3 linked regions of the Homo sapiens genome follow. The protein of the gene in region 1 purifies or fractionates together with the protein of each later gene. This does not show direct contact. Each region holds a gene or a part of one and is shown in the gene's direction. Other genes may lie near its edges. The genes, in order: COL21A1, PLOD1 and COLGALT2.

Region 1 (3,654 bases):
TCATATATTCTATTTATTCATGTTTCAGTTTTGGTAGGTTATATGTTCTAGGAATTTATTCATTTCTTCTAGGTTACCAATTTGTTGATATATAGTCGTTCATAGTGGTCACTTAAAATCCTTTTTATTTCTGTGGCATCAATTGTAATATCTCTTCTTTCACTTCCTGTTTTGAGTCTTCTCTGTTTTTACTTAATTTAGTTAAAGGTTTGTCAATTTTGTTGATTTTTCCAAAAAAGCAACTCTTAGCTTTGTTGACTTCTTTCCATTTTCTATTTTATTTATTACTGCTTAAATCTAAATTATTTTTTTCCTCCTGCTAACTTCGGGCTTAGTTTGTCTTTTTTTTCTGTAGGTCCTTGAGGTATAAAGTTGTTTATTTGATTATTTGATATCCTTTTTCTTTTTTAATGTAGGCATTTATTGCTATAAACTTCTCTCTTAGTACTGTTTTCCTGCATCTCATAAATTTTGGATGTTGTGATTTTGTCATCACGTATTTTCTAACTTTGTCTCTGATTTCTTCTTTGACCTGATGGCTATTCAAAAGTGTGCTATTTAATTTTTACATATTTGTGAATTTTTCAATTTTCCTCCTGTTGTTAATTTTTAGTTTTATTCCATTGTGGTTGGAAAATATACTGGTATGATTTCAGCCTTCTTAAATAAGACATGTTTTGTGATTTAACATGTGGTCTGTCCTGGAGAATGTTTCATGTGCAATTGAAGGGAATGTGTATTCTGCTGCTGTTTGGTGGAATATTCTGTATGCATCTGCTAGGTTCATTTGGTCTATAGTATTGTTCAAGTCTTCTATTTCCTTATTGATCTTCTGTTTGAATGTTCTAATCATTATTGAAATCCTCTACTATTATTGTGTTTCTTTCTATTTCTCCCTTCAGTTCTGTATATGTCTGCCTCGTATTTTTGTTATCATGATGTTGGCTGCATATATAATCATAATTATTATATCTTCCTGGTGAGTTGACCCTTTTATCATAGTAGGATATCTTTCTTTGTCTCTTGTTATAGTTTTGTACTGTGTGATATAAGTATAGACATCTCTGATGTCTTTTGGCTACCATTTGCATGGAATATCTTTTTTCATTTTTTCACTTACAGCCTATGTGTGTCCTTAAATTTAAAGTGAGTCCTTTTCATTTCTCTTTTCTTTTCCTTTCCCTTTTCCCTTTTCCCCCCTTCCCTTCCCTTTCTTTCCCTTCCTTCCCCTTCCCCTTCTCCTTTCCCTTTCCTTTGTCTCATTCTGTTGCGCAGGCTGGAGTGCAGTGGCATGATCATAGCTCACTGCAGCTTCAACCTCCCAGACTCAGTCAATCCTCCCACCTCAGCCTCCTGAGTAGCTGAGACTACAGGCACATGCCACCATGCATGGCTAATTTTGTTGTTTTTTGTTTGTTTGCTTTTGTTTTTGTTTTTGTAGAGATGGGGTTTTGCCATGTTGCCCAGGCTAGAGTCTTTCATAGATAGTATATAGCTGGATCTGTAGCTCTAAACCATTCAGTCTCTCTATGTACTTTGATTAAGGAGTATACTCACTTACATTTAAGGTAATTACTGATAGGGAAAAATTATTGTTGCCATTTTGGTAATTATTTTCTGTCTTTCCTGTAGCTTTTTGTCCCTCTTTTTTTCTTTTACTGTCTTCCTTTGTGTTTTATTGCTTTTTTTGTAGTGATGTCCTTTATCATTTTATTTATCTTCCGTAGGTATTTTCTTTGAGGTTATCATAGGGGTTACATGAAACATCATGTAATTATAACAACTTATTTTAAGTTGGTATGAAATTAAATTACATATAAATATTCTATATTTTTGCTACCTGTCCTTTGTTACTGATGCCACAAATTGCATCTTTTTATATTTTATATCTGTTAACATATTTTTAAAGTTACAGTTTTTAAAAATGCTTTTGTCTTTTAACTTTTACACCAGAATTAAAAGTCATTTATGCACACTGTTACAGTATTATAATATTGTGTGTCTGTCTATATATTTACTTTTATCTGAAAAATTTATACTATCTTATGCTTTTATGTTGCTGATTAGTATACTTCTGTTTGATCTTGAAGGACTCCTTGAGAATTTCTTATAAGGCAGGTCTGATGGTGATGAACTTTCTCAGCTTGTGTTTATCTAGAAAAGTCTTTATTTCTCCTTCATTTTTGAAGAACAGTTCTGCCAGACATAGCATTCTTGTTTGGCAGGTTTTTTCTTTCCTTTCAGCACTTTGAATATGTCATCCCACTCCTGGCCTGCAATGGTGCTATTGAGAAATCTGCTGATAGTCTTATCAAGGTTCCCTTGTACATAACAAGTCTCTTTTTTCTTGCTGCTTTCAAAATGTGATCTTTGCCTTTAACTTTTGACGATTAGATTACAATGTGTCTCAGTGTGGATTTCTTTGGGTTTAACTTAGCATATATTAGGCTTCTTGAATTCGAGTATCCATATCCTTTCCCAGATTTGGGAAGTTGTTGGCCTCATCTCTTTAAATAAGCTTTTTGTCCCCTTTTCACCCTCTTCTTTTTTTTTTTTCTGGAACTCGCAAAATGCATATATTGGTATGCTTGATGGTGTTGCTTAAATCTCTTAGGCTTTCTTCACTCTTTCTCTTCCTTTTTCTTTTTGTTTCTCTAACTGGATAATTTCAAATGACCAATTATTGAGTTTGCTGATTCTTTTCCCTCTGCTTGTTAAAGTCTGCTATTAATCATCTTTAGTAAATTTTTTCAGTCATTGTATACTTCAGCTAAAGTATATCATACTTATTACCTATATAGCTGACTATGTAATGCTAATGATTATTCTTAAGAAAATATTCTTTATAAGTATGATTAATATATAATTATAGATGAGATAATATGTCCGTCTGAAGAACTTTCATGAATAGATGGGACCCAGGTTAAGTTTTTTCCAGAGAGACAGACTAATGATATTTGAGCTATAGAAATATAAGCTGCTTGAACTGGAAAGAAAATCAAGAACAGAAAATACTTTTTACCCCTTAAATGCTAAGAATGCAAGAAAAGAATTTTAGTGTTCATTTTTGAATTAAATAAATTAAAAGCATTATCCAAAGTTGTATGACTAGTTAATAGGAAATCCTGGATGAGAATGATAAATCCTGTTCCATTGTTTTTCTTTTCCATAGGTGTTATATTGTCTCATATTGCTATTGTCTCAATTTTTTGCTAAAGACAATACATTAACAAATATTTATATTTTTGTTTTACTTTTATCCCTTATTTTTTAGAGAAAAAAGCATATTAAGATCTCACTCTTAAATGTGTAAAATACTTCTACATTTTCTCAGAAAATGTATTCATATACATTTATATACTATACATTTGTATACATATGTAGATTTTATAATTCTAATGATAGAATACTATATTGTCTAGTATTTCTCCCTTGATTTTTCTTTTATTGTTTGAATAGTCCATGATTAACCAACTTTTATTGCTTTTGCTTTATAGAATCTGTCTGTCCAACACGAATTCCAGTGGCAGCTCGTGATGAAAGGGGATTTGATATTCTTTTAGGTTTAGATGTAAATAAAAAGGTTAAGAAAAGAATACAGCTTTCACCAAAAAAGATAAAAGGATATGAAGTAACATCAAAAGTTGATTTATC
Region 2 (3,654 bases), on another chromosome or scaffold:
GTGATAAAAATATCACCTTCCTCGTAGAGTGTTGACCGTGAAATAAGATAATGAATGTAACATGCCTCATACAGCACACGGTATCTCACCGGGTTCAGTGGTGGTAGCTGTTCCTAAAAGTACTTTGTTTGTTTGTTTTGTTTTTTGTTTTTTGTTTTTGAGAGGGAGACTTGCTCTGTCACCCAGGCTAGAGTGCAGTGGCACCACAAAAGTACAAAAGTACCTTCCATGTTGCTGCTTTTTTTTTTGAGACAGAGTTTCACTCTGTCACCCGGGCTGGGGTGCAGTGGCACAATCTTGGCTCACTGCAACCTCTGCCTCCTGGTTTCAAGTGATTCTCCTGCCTTAGTCTCCTAAGTAGCTGGGATTATTATTATTATTATTATTATTATTTTTGAGATGGAGTTTCACTTTTGTTGCCCAGGCTAGAGTGCAATGGCACAATCTGGGCTCATTGCAACCTCTGCCTCCTGGGTCAAGCAATTCTCCTATCTCAGCCTCCTGAATAGCAGGGATTATAGGCGCCTGCCACCATGCCCAGCTAAATTTTTTTTGTATTTTTAGTAGAGACGGGGTTTCATCACATTGGTTAGGCTGGTCTCAAACTCCTGACCTCAGGTGATCCGCCCGCCTAGGCCTCTCAAAGTGCTAGGATAACAGGCGTGAGCCACCGCGCCCGGACTAGTAGCTGGGATTACATGCACCACCGTATAACTTGCAGTATGTAATATGCACCACTGCCTGGCTAATTTTTGTATTTTTAGTAGAGACGGGGTTTTGCCATGTTGGCCAGGTGGGACTTGAATTCCTGACCTCAGGTGATCTGTCCACCTTGGCCTCCCAAAGTGCTGGGATTACAGGTGTGTGAGCCACTGTGCCCGGCCTTTTTTTTTTTTTTTGAGACAGAGTTTCACCCTGTTGCCCAGGCTGGAGTACAGTGGCACAACCCTGGCTCACTGCAACCTCTGCCTCCTGGGTTCAAGCAATTCTCGTGCCTCAGCCTTCTGAGTAGCTGGGACTACAGGCTCTTGCCACCACGTCTAGCTAATTTTTGTATTTTTAGTAGAGACGGGGTTTCACCATGTTGGCCAGGCTGGTCTCAAATTTCTGATCTCAACTGATCTGCCTGCCTCAGCTTCCCCTCACTTCCCAAAGTGCTGGGATTACAGGTGTGAGCCACTGTGTCAGGCCTCACGTAGCTGCTTAAGGCCAGAATGTACAGTGTGTCTTGGTCATGCCCAGTCCCAGCCATGGTGAGGGAGAGGGAGACCAAGGAAATAAAGATGTGGCCCTGGCCTGGCAGAGGGAGAAGGAGCAGGTTTGTACCAATACGTCAACTACTGGGCAAACCAAGACTGCACGTGCAAAGGAGTGACCACATGGGATGAGATTAAGGAGGGCTTCCTGGAGGAGGTAGACTGGAGGCCTCTTTAGGGGAAGGAATGTGTGTTGCAGACAGGTCAAGGGAATGGGGTGCAGGCTGGGTTTACTGAGGCTGTTTCCTTGGGGATGTTAGGAGGTCATGCCAGGGTCTCTTGTTGGAGGGCTTGCCTTCAGTTCTCTTGTTGTGAACCGCCTCCCAGACCCCTGCATTGCAGCCCAGTGTCAGCGGACCAAGGGGATGGATTGGACCAGTGATTCCCAAATGTGGCTGACATCAGAAATCACCTGGGAAAGGTAGGAAAAATCCAGACTCCTGGGCCCACCTCAGACCCCTAGCCCTGGGGCCTAGGAGCCTGGATTCCACAACCTCTCTTGTGATGCTGATGTGTGGGCAGGTTTGGGACCCTCTGAACTGGACAATCACGTGGGATCCTCAACCAGAGAGGCAGGCTCTGCGTGGCCCAAGGAACCCGGGAGTTTTTTTTGTTTGTTTGGTTTTTTGTTTTTTGTTTTTGTTTTTGAGATGGAGACTTGCTCTGTCACCCAGGCTAGAGTGCAGTGGCATTATCTCGGCTCACTGCAATCTCTGCCCCCTGGGTTCAAGCAGTTCTCTGCCTCCACCTCCCGAGTAGCTGGGATTACAGGCTCCCGCCCACCACCATGCCTAGCTAATTTTTGTATTTTTAGTAAAGATGGGGTTTCACCATGTTGGCCAGGCTGGTCTTGAACTCCTGATCTCATGATCCACCTGCCTTGGCCTCCCAAAGTGCTAGGATTATAGGCATGAGCCACCGTGCCCGGCTTTTTTTTTCTTTCTTTTTTTTTTTTTGAGACAGAGTTTTGTTCTTGTCGCCCAGGCCGGACTGCAATGGCACAGTCTCTGCTCACTGCAGCCGCCACCTCCCGGGTTCAAGCGATTCTCTTGCCTGAGCCTCACGAGTAGTTGGGATTACAGGCATGTGCCACCACGCCCGGCTAATTTTTGTATTCTTAGTAGAGACAGGGTTTCACCATGTTGACCAGGCTGCTCTCAAACTCCTGACCTCAGGTGATCCACCTGCCTCAGCCTCTCAAAGTGCTGCGATTACAGGCGTGAGTCACCACGCCTGGCCACGGAACCTGGGGGTTAAGGTCCCAGTGTGGGCTCTCAGCAGCACTGTTTCCCTGGAAAACAGGGAATAGACAGGTTATAGGGAGGAAAGTGGGCATGTGGGGAGGGCACAGCTAGACAGCTCCCTTACATAGATAGAGAGACAGGGCCCTCTCAACAGATGGCCTGGCCACCGTCCCTGGCTGGGCAGTGCATGCATTTAGGTTAAGAGAGGAGACTCTGGGTTCAGGCTTGTGTCCAAGTCCTGGTGCTGCTGCTTCCTAGCTCCCTTGGGCACATTACTCGCCAGCTGTACCCTTGGTTTCCTAACTGGAAAGTCGGGGGTTAGTATGTGTGAAGTGCTTGGAACAGCATTGGCTGGGCACGGTGGCTCATGCCTGTAATCCAGCACTTTGGGAAGCTGAGGCAGGCAGATCACCTGAGGTCATGAGTTTGCGACCAGCCTGGCCAACATGGTGAAACCCCATCTCTACTAAAAATACAAAAAATTAGCTGGGCGTGGTGGCCGGCACCTGTAATCCCAACTATTTAGGAGGCTGAGGCATGAGAATCGCTTGAACCCAGGAGATAGAGGTTGTAGTGAGACAAGATCTAGCCACTGCACTCCAGCCTGGGTGACAGAGCGAGACTCTGTCTCAAAAAAAAAAAATTGTGTCTGGCACACAGAAAATGCTCGATGAAGGTAAGCCATTATTGTTGCTGTTATTGAGAAGCAGGAACCTGAGAAAGGGGCTTTGAGCCACGCCACCCCATCCCCTTCCCCCACCCCTGCTGCTGGAGTTCAAGAGCCTGTTCCATCAAGAATCCTGAATTGCGCATGCACGCGTACACACACACACACACACACACACACACACACTCACTCACATGCTCTCACGCTGGCTTTTTCCATCCATGAAATGTGACACTCTTCCTGTCCCCAGCAGCCCCCTGTTGCCAAGAGGGCCTCAGAGCTGGTGGCTCTGGTTCTCTTCACCTGGGGAGAGACTTCACCGTCCTGGCAGGAGCTCGGGGGAGCCCTTCCCCAAGTGTGAGCAGCATCCCTCGTTTCTGGATCCCAGGTTCAGGTAGTGAGGCCTCTCCTTCCCACACCTGCCTGGTGTATCCACCCCCTCCTCCCCCAGCACCGCAGCTAATCCCTGCCAATCCCTGCTGGGCCG
Region 3 (3,654 bases), on another chromosome or scaffold:
TAACAATAATAATAGTATCTACTTCCTGGGATTGATAGAAGATTAAATGAATACATATAAACATTTAGGACAGAGCCTGGTACATGTAGGCACTCAATAATGATGAGCTATTATTATTATTTTAGGTCTTACCCTGATGAAATTGGACCAAAGCACTGGCCAACCTCCCGGTTTGCCCATGTGATGAAACTACGACAGGCAGCCCTTCGAACTGCGAGGGAAAAATGGTCAGACTACATTCTGGTAAAAACAGATGTTTGATTTCTTGACAACTGTCATCTCAGGTGTATCCAAATCAGTCGTCCAAAAACTAGAACCATGGAAGCAATCAAAACAACCTTTTTGATTAGGCAGTGCCTCCCCCACTTTTTAAGAAAGGCACAATGAAATTTTTGGTAGTTTAAAATTGGGCTACCTGGACTTCATCTTCAGGCCCACATGCATTTTCAGTGGGTAAGTGAAGAAGTGCCTGAATTATTTGGTCTCTGCCATGCAACAGGCATAAGAACTCTGCATATTTTTAGCTCACAGGAAAGGCTGTAGGTAAAGCAATGTAAGTTGTTCTTACAACTTTTTGGAAGAATTTGGGGGATATGAAAAAGTAATTATCTAAAAAAGTGATTCAGCTGAACAGCTCTGAAATGGTTCCCTTTTGCTCCTGAATGATCTGGGGAGTAGCATCTGTTGCTTGGCACAGTGATGCTCTCTTTGGAGAATTTATGTCCATCCCCATCCCCTCAACCACAGTGAAAATCTGCCCAAAAATGTATCACGCACACTTGTGACACAAATCCTTTCATAGAAGTTTTCAAATTGTACTGACAATATTTAACATTGTGTAGCTGTTTAAATGCCATTGAAGTGTACAAATGTTAAATCACAAAATTTGGGGTAAACAGATGGACTATCATAAAAATGAAGACTTCTGAATTTTTTATTGTGATAAAACCTACAAAAGGTAAAATCTGTCAGTTTATCCCTTTTTCAGTGTATAGTTCAGTATGATTATTTCTTTTATAAATTAGAATCTGTTGTTATACTGTCTCTAAATAAATCACTGTTAACATGGACTTCTAAGAATAGGAAATAGCTTCACTGGTTAGCATGGGTTGATATAATGTACTTAAACAAAAATTCTACTTGTCACATTAAAATTCATTGATAGATCTGTTTTGAGCTACTCTGGCATTACTATAGAAAAGCTAAGTAGGCATGCCCATCTGTACCTAGACTGGGCAGCCAATAAGTGTTTTTGAATGAACCTTTAATGGCTTGGGAGCCATTAATATCTTGTGCCTAAAACACTAGCCAAAGTGTAGGTTGGTTCCTGGTTGAGGCTATGCCCAGTATGGCAGCACCAATTTACTGCTTAGTGCCTTATGCAGAGCCCAACATACGAAAGTTAGACTAAATATATTTTGACTGAATGAAAGCCACCTAGCTGCAATGGGTTTCAATAAGGAGGACATAGATAGCTGGTTCCATATGTCATGAGCAAGTTTCTGGGATCCTTCAGAAGGGCTGGGTTATTCTCAAACTCATTACTGAAAAGTACCTTTTCACCTAACATTATCCTTTTCTTTTCCTAGTTCATAGATGTTGACAATTTCCTGACTAATCCACAGACCCTCAATCTACTGATTGCAGAAAACAAAACTATTGTGGCCCCCATGCTGGAGTCTCGGGGCCTGTATTCTAATTTCTGGTGCGGAATCACCCCTAAGGCAAGTCTTTTGCTTAAATGAATTAAGGCTACTAGTTTTAACAAGGCAACACCCGGTCAACAGTAGTCCCATTCACCTTTCTCTTGTTTACTCCCTTGAAACATGCGTGTCATTGTGTTCCCAGAGCAAGCATTTTTTAGGAAGGGCAGTAAATCTGGGTCCAATGCTACACCCAGTTGGGCTCTTCTGTGTTAATTTATTATGAAAAAAATAGTCTAAAGAGCTTAGCCTTAGAAACGTCAAATTAGCCAATTCCTGATTCAGGAATTACTATTTTTAATTAATTCTTTTTGTCCTTACAAAACTAACATAAGAACACTATAGAAAAACTTAGAAATTAAAAAAAGTTTAAAAGAAAACCAACAAGACAGATGTTAAATCCCCATCACCGTAACAACATCATAGATAGAAACTTGCACGTTTTTAGTAACTGTGTTATCATCAAGTGGCTATGTTCCAATTTACTTAACCTTTATCTCGGTTTGAAAAACATTTAAATTATTCACAACTTTTTAACTATCGTGACCGTCATGATTAATATAATTTTTCAGCATTTAAGATTATATCCTTAGGATAGCTTTTTAGAAGTGGAATTACTGAGTCAAACAGTACAAATATGCCAGGCGCGGTGGCTCACACCTGTGATCCCAGCACTTTGGGAGGCCAAGGCGGGCGGATTACAAGGTCAGGAGATTGAGACCATCCTGGCTAACATGGTGAAACCTCATCTCTACTAAAAATATAAAAAATTAGCCAGGCGTGGTGTTGGGCGCCTATAGTCCCAGCTACTCGGAAGGCTGAGGCAGGAGAATGGCGTGAACTTGGGAGGCGGAGCTTGCAGTGAGCCGAGGTCGCGCCACTGCGCTCCAGCCTGGGTGACAGAGCGAGACTCCCTCTCAAAAAAGAAAAAAAAAAAAAAAGTACAAATATTTCAATGACCTTCGATGTATGTTGCCAAATTTATTTCCAAAGAGTTCTAATAATGAAAACTACCATGGTAGGTTATTTTTATAAAATTCAAGTTAAAAAAGGTTTGATTTTTTATTATTTCTTTTTTTCATAGTAAAATCTTCAAAATAGTGGTCTGTTTTAGTGAATGCTCATGGCTGGTTATATTTTTTATTCTTTAATTAAAGAATTAGATAAATTCAACTGATTAATGTAATATGTATCAATGTAGGATAAAAATGTGCTAAGCAAAATATGTTGGCCAGGAGCAGTGTCTCATGCCTGTAATTTCAACACTTTGGGAAGCTGAGGTAGGACAATTACTTGAACCCAGGAGTTTGAGACCAACATGAGCAACATGGCGAAACCACATCTCTACAACAAATCAAAAAATTAACCAGTTGTGGTGTCGTGCACACCTATAGTTCCATCTATTCGGGAGGCTGAGCAGGGAGTATTGCTTGAGCCCAAGAAGTTGAGGCTGCAGTGAGCTATGATCACACCACTGCACTGCAGCCTAAGCAACTGAGACCCTGTCTCAAAAAAAGAGGGAGTATGTTCAATGTATTCTCATGGCCAAAGGGCTAAAGTTTGAGTCTCCCCTTTATATTTGGTTTTGTTTTGGATGAGAAATAAGGTCAGTAGTGTGCTGATAAATGTTTAATAACTGGCTCTTTGTGGGAAAAACCCTAGTTGGTAGCATTGCCAATTTTTATGGTTTAAATACTCCCACCATGCAAACAGCTTAAATGTTGTTAAGCTAAGGGAAAGGTTAAGTAAACTGCAGTATAGCCACTTGATGATACAGCTATTAAAAACATGTAAAACTGCCACATGAGGTGTCATTAGAGTGGTGGGGATTAACGTGATTTTTGTTTTTATGGATTCCAAGCTATCAACATGTCAACTGGTTTGCAAACTTTCTGAAAATTTAACAATGTGTGGTCCAGTACACCACTGGATGAAGCATTCCTCTTTTGTT

The links.
Region 2: the proteins of COL21A1 (region 1) and PLOD1 purify together in Homo sapiens (affinity purification with mass spectrometry; one large-scale study listed by BioGRID and IntAct). This does not show direct contact.
Region 3: the proteins of COL21A1 (region 1) and COLGALT2 purify together in Homo sapiens (affinity purification with mass spectrometry; one large-scale study listed by BioGRID and IntAct). This does not show direct contact.

The regions. Positions count from the first base shown.
Region 1 is NC_000006.12:56,170,972-56,174,625, reverse strand, and holds part of COL21A1 (collagen alpha-1(XXI) chain isoform a precursor), read left to right. Parts: intron 1-3,497; coding exon 3,498-3,654.
Region 2 is NC_000001.11:11,941,102-11,944,755, forward strand, and holds part of PLOD1 (procollagen-lysine,2-oxoglutarate 5-dioxygenase 1 isoform 2 precursor), read left to right. Parts: intron 1-3,420; coding exon of another isoform or gene 3,421-3,561; intron 3,562-3,654. UniProt on the Homo sapiens protein: Part of a complex composed of PLOD1, P3H3 and P3H4 that catalyzes hydroxylation of lysine residues in collagen alpha chains and is required for normal assembly and cross-linkling of collagen fibrils.
Region 3 is NC_000001.11:183,971,686-183,975,339, reverse strand, and holds part of COLGALT2 (procollagen galactosyltransferase 2), read left to right. Parts: intron 1-125; coding exon 126-243; intron 244-1,589; coding exon 1,590-1,724; intron 1,725-3,654. UniProt on the Homo sapiens protein: Beta-galactosyltransferase that transfers beta-galactose to hydroxylysine residues of collagen.